Linked DNA regions of Homo sapiens: region 2 is linked to region 1. A link means that fine-mapping ties the variant in region 1 to the expression of a gene that starts in the linked region. Tissue or cell type: spinal cord. Region 1 holds a variant in brackets; the other region holds the start of a gene. All regions are shown on one strand. Distances are between the middles of the regions.

Region 1 (2,686 bases):
GGAATGCTTAGGGGGTTCTTTCCCAAAGGTTTTTTATTAGGTGAACTATTTTTCCTTTTTATAATACCCGCCATGAAGGCTAGCTCTCTTGCTACTTGTAGCTCAAGGCTAATACCTTTCAAAGCTAATGAACTAGTTTTAAGATAGAGGGAAATTATTTCCCTGAAAGCTGATTTAGGTAGTGACTCCCCAGTGGTTACAGATTTTATAGTAAGTTGCATTTTGATCATATCACAACTGATCAAGATTTAATCACAGGTGGAGAAAGGTGGAGAAAGGAAGCATTCAATATGTCCATACTTGCATTGAGTCAACACTTTTGATGTAATAATTTGTTGTAGGTGGGCAACATACGTGGGGGGAGTTAAATGGGATGTTTTGTGAGTAACACTCTTAGCAAGTACATGCAACCCAGAATTTTTATTGTCCTTTTATCCCAAAGATCTTAGTCTCATTTACTTACGGTCACTTTTTTTTTTTTTTTTTTTTGTTCCTTGAGACAGAGTCTTTCGCTCTGTCACCCAGGCTGGAGTGCAGTGGCATGATCTTAGCTCACTGCAACCTCCGCCTCCTGGGTTCAAGCGATTCTCCTGCCTCAGCCCCCTGAGTAGCTGGGACTACAGGCGCGTGCCACCACGGCTGGCTAATTTTTTTTTGTATTTTTAGTAGAGACGGGGTTTCACCATATTAGCCAGGCTGGTCTCGAACTCCTGACCTCGTGATCCGCCCGCCCCGGCCTCTCAAAGTGCTGGGATTACAGGCGTGAGCCACCACGCCCAGCCTGCTTACGGTCACTTGTAAATCAGATGACTTTCTGCTTGGTATTTTGCTGTCTTCTTCAAAGTTTGGATACTTCTATAAGTGTCTTTTACTTGGCATTGTCATTTTAATGTGTAGAATAAATATAATTTTAAGCTGTTTAAGTGTTAGGTTTCCTGCTATTTCCTTTGGTCCCTATTTAGCAGAGATAATGGGAGTGTCTGAAAGTAAGGTAGAACTTGAACTTGATTCCACCTTTAAGAGTACAGACTGCTTACTAGTAAAAGTTGGGTTGGCTGCACATATATTTTAGCTTTAACAAAGGTAGATATGTGTTCATTTAAAAGAAAAAAAAAAAACCCACCTTCTTAGTTCTCCCCGCTTCACTTGACTGGTTTTCTGCCTGTAAACCAGTGCTGTGCTTATATTAGTTATCCAGGTTGAAAGAGTAGCTATACAGGGACAGCAATGAAAAGTATGTGTGTCTGGGTGAAACTAGAGGGAGAAAACCTATTGGAGTTTGAGGAAATGTGTTTTGTTGCTTAGCCTAGGGGGTTGGAGAAGAAAGATGACCTAAAAAACAAACTTGGAGGACTAGGTGAGAGTAAAAGCAGATTTCCATTGCGTCTTACGTATAGTAGGCACGTGACCGATATTAATTTTTGACTTTAGCTGTTAAAAAGTTATTACACAAGTAGTGTTACATGTACGTTTTTGAAAATTAGAAAATACAAGGAAACAAATATAAAAACAAATTGCTACCATCCATAGATGACTACTGTATTA[C/G]TTTTCAGATAATTTTCTATGCATGTGCATGTGTGTTTTAATAAAAATGAGATACATGAATATACCATCTGTAAGGATTTTTTCTTTTTTTTTTTTTTTTGAGATGAAGTTTTGCTCATGTTGCCCAGGCTGGAGTGCAATGGTGGGATCTCACTGCAACCTATGCCTCCCAGGTTCAAGCGATTCTCCTGCCTCAGCCTCCTGAGTAGCTGGGATTACAGGCTCCCGCCACCACGCCCAGCTAATTTTTTGTATTTTTAGTAGAGACGGGTTTTCACCATGTTTGTCAGGCTGGTCTTGAACTCCTGACCTCAGGTGATCCACCTGCCTCGGCCTCCCAAAGTGCTGGGATTACAGGCGTGAGCCACCGCACCCAGCTCTGAGGACCTTTTTTTTTTCTGTCAGCTAGCTTGGTTAGTTTTAATATAATCTATTACTGTAACATGTCCAGATTTCCCCATTTAGCCCCAGACTGTAATAGAGAAGCTTTGTCTAAACCACTGCCTAATAAAGGACCATTTATTGCATTTGGTTGTTTCCCTTAAGTCGATTTTAATCTTAAGTAACTTTTTTTTTTTTTTTTTGAGACGGAGGCTTGCTCTGTCACCCAGGCTGGAGTGCAGGGGTGCGATCTCGGCTCCCTGTAAGCTCCGCCTCCCTGTAAGCTCCGCCTCCCTGTAAGCTCCGCCTCCCTGTAAGCTCCGCCTCGCGGGTTCACGCCATTCTCCTGCCTCAGCCTCCAGAGTAGCTGGGACTACAGGCACCCGCCACCATGCCCAGCTAATTTTTTTGTATTTTTATTAAGACGGGGTTTCACCGTGTTAGCCAGGATGGTCTCGATCTCCTGACCTCGTGATCCGCCCGCCTCAGCCTCCCAAAGTTCTGGGGTTACAGGCGTGAGCCACCGTGCCCGGCAATCTTAAGTAACTTTTTGACAGAATATCTGACACTGAGGAGGCAAGCCTTTGGAAATAAAGTTGCCTGGATTTTAAAAAAGCAGGAAATCCAAATGGTATTTATTGTAATTTGGAAATCTTAAATTTGGAGATCATCTGCTTGCTTGATGTTACTTTCCACAGACTTGTTGGAAAAAGATTTATCAGATGTTTGTGTTTCAGTACTGAGGTGGTTGGAACAGTAA
Region 2 (2,686 bases), 280 kb after region 1:
TATTGTCGTATTTCTACTTGGCATCAAATAAATAATTATAGACTTAACTCTACGCTTACACCCAAACTGGATGGAAGCAAATACCTTCTGGCTATAACTGATGAGTGGTATTTACATAAAGTGAATATCTCAGGTGAAAACTTTTATGTCTGCACTCGAATTTTTTAGCTTACATGATCATAATTATGATCATGATAGTTTTTTGTTTTTGCGTTTGTGTTTGTGGTTACAAGATTTTAGTAGTTGAATTTTAATGGAGTATTTTCAACATAAGTTTCATCATTAGGAAACAAAATTGTGATGATTTCACTTATCCTTAAAGGATCCCCTCTCATGTTCCTCCTTTTCACATCTCCTGAGTTCTTTATCCACTTCTCCCAAGGTAGGTGCCACCTTAGTACTTACTTCATGCTCCTTCCTGCATTATCTGTCATGTTTTGTAGTTTGTCTCCAGGCTCCATCATAATACCTGGAACACAGAGTTGATTAAATATCTGATGGAAGGAATGAAAGAATTCAGTGGATGTTCATGAAAAGTATCTATTAGTATAAATTGAATACAAGGAATGACAAGCAGAAATGTATGTAGTTTGTGTGTAACTCTTGTCAAGCCACCATTTAATGTTTTTATATGACTTTTCTGCAATAAAGAAAACCCCTAAAGTTGTATAGATTGAAAATTAGTGACATTTCACTAACATTCATTTGGTTGATCAATTGACATTGAGCACCCAGTACTATGTGCAAAGTACCAGGAAGAATACAAAGTTAGAAGTTTAAGCAAGGATCAGAACAGATCACACAGCTGGCAAGTGCCTGAGTTGAGATTTGAACCCAGGCAGTATGGTTCTAATTTCACAATTGTTAACTGCTATGAACATGCCTCCCCAGGAATATAGTATAATATAGTTTATAGCTGGTATAATATAATTTATAGTTTTTGCTTATATGGCCAGTTAGCCTTTAGTTGTATTAAATGAAATATTTCTGTACATGTTATATTGTAATCTTAATGATTTACAGTTGATTTTCAAATTATTGCACAGTATTTATATTTCTGAATCACCCTTCCTTCTTCTAGGAAACCACTCATACTTTAGTGGAACGATTAGAAGTCTTCAGTTGTTCATGTGTGGCCCTTCAACATCTTTCTTTCCTAGAAAAATCAAGCGTCTTAGCTTCAGTGTTCTAAGCCCCTCCCCCAGAACGTGTAGGCAGCTGGGTGGAGCCTAAAGCCGAGCCCTCTCCTGTGACCTCGGCTGAAAAGAAGAAGCCAGTGTTTGAGAAAAGCTTCGTGGTCTGTGTTCTCTAGTTGTTCCCTCTTCTCTCTGACATTCCTTTCGTCGTCGCCAGGTCTTGTTTTTCGCTTGATCTCTGGAAAATACTGAAAAGTATTTTACTTTTCAGCTGTCTCCTGCTAAGTGAGCGTACTCCCCCTTTCAGGCTGACTTCCTCATTTCTCCGTTTCCCTGATAAATGGGCGGGGCCTCGGGGAGGTATGGAAACTGAAAAGAAATCATTATTGTAGAAAAACTAAAGAAATTTTTGTTGAGCAGAGGAATTTGGAAATTTTCCTTGCAGATCATTTGGTTGAGAAAACACCTTTACCATAACTTATTTCTTTTAAACTTTGCGGACATTTTTTCTTTTCCTGGGTTCTTAATGCTCCAGTGTTCGGTCTCCTTTCTCTTCCTTCGTTTCCTTTTAGAGGTCTTTCCAGGTAAAGATAAAGCAATCAGAACAATTGAAAATTTATTTTTTTAACTTGTTTTAAGAGCAATTTGAAGAATAGAGGTTAAAAGTAGAAACATACAGAGTAACAATAAATATTGTATTAAGAAAGTCTAAACAGCCAAACTTAAAATTGCATTGCAGGACAGTAATCATCTTGATAATATGCATTATGACTTTTCGGAAACGTTCAGCATATATAATATAAAGGGGAGAAGAGGCAGCCACCATACTCTTTTTAAGAGAACCGGCCTTAAATTAGACTTAAAATATATATATTTTTTTGAGACGGAGTCTTGCTCTGTTGCCAGGCTGGAGTGCAGTGGAGCGATCTCTGCTCACTGCAACCTCCGCCTCCGGGTTCAAGCGATTCTTCTGCCTCAACCTCCCGAGTAGCTGGAACTACAGGCGCGTGCCACCACGCCCAGCTAATTTTTGTATTTTTAGTAGAGACGGGGTTTCACCATGTTCGCCAGGATGGTCTCGATCTCCTGACCTTGTGATCCGCCTGCCTTGGCCTCCCAAAGTGCTGGGATTACAGGTGTGAGCCACCGCGCCCGGCCAAAAAATAATTTTAAACTGTTCAGTTACCTTAAAATAGTAATGCATGTCTGTCATAGTGTAAAATGCAGATAGGTTTTTAAAAAGTGATGAAGTTGAAAGGAAGCCTTCCTCCTTCCCATATCTGCAGGCAGATAATTCCCTTCAGGGAAGCAACCACTGTTACCACTCGTTTCTTGGATGTTTCCTGAGATAGTGTATGCCTCACAAGCATATATGCAAATAAGCTTCCTTTTTATTAAATAAATGCACCTTGCTTTTTTTCACTTCACAACATATTTTAGCATAGATGTTAATTCAGAGCTGCCTCATTCATTTTAGCAGTTATACAGTGTTTCATTGTATGGTATAGCATAATTTTTTTTACCAGTCCTCTACTGATGGGTATTTAAGT

The links. PIP is the estimated chance that this variant, and not a neighbour inherited with it, causes the effect.
Region 2: C4orf33 starts here. The variant in region 1 is fine-mapped to the expression of C4orf33 in spinal cord (GTEx, PIP above 0.99). The same link has a PIP of 0.9 or more in anterior cingulate cortex, cerebral cortex, prefrontal cortex, putamen, sun-exposed skin and testis.

What each region holds. Positions count from the first base shown.
Region 1 is chr4:128,812,939-128,815,624 of GRCh38, forward strand. The region is part of intron 1 of JADE1 (jade family PHD finger 1); the gene reads left to right. Among named protein-coding and RNA genes, the nearest start is that of JADE1, 4.6 kb to the left of the region's middle. RefSeq lists enhancers at 18-599, 600-1,181. The variant C/G (reference allele first, on the strand shown) is at 1,546.
Region 2 is chr4:129,094,913-129,097,598 of GRCh38, forward strand. C4orf33 (chromosome 4 open reading frame 33) reads left to right here and starts at 1,240. Exons shown (of 6, transcript NM_001099783.2): 1 at 1,240-1,297.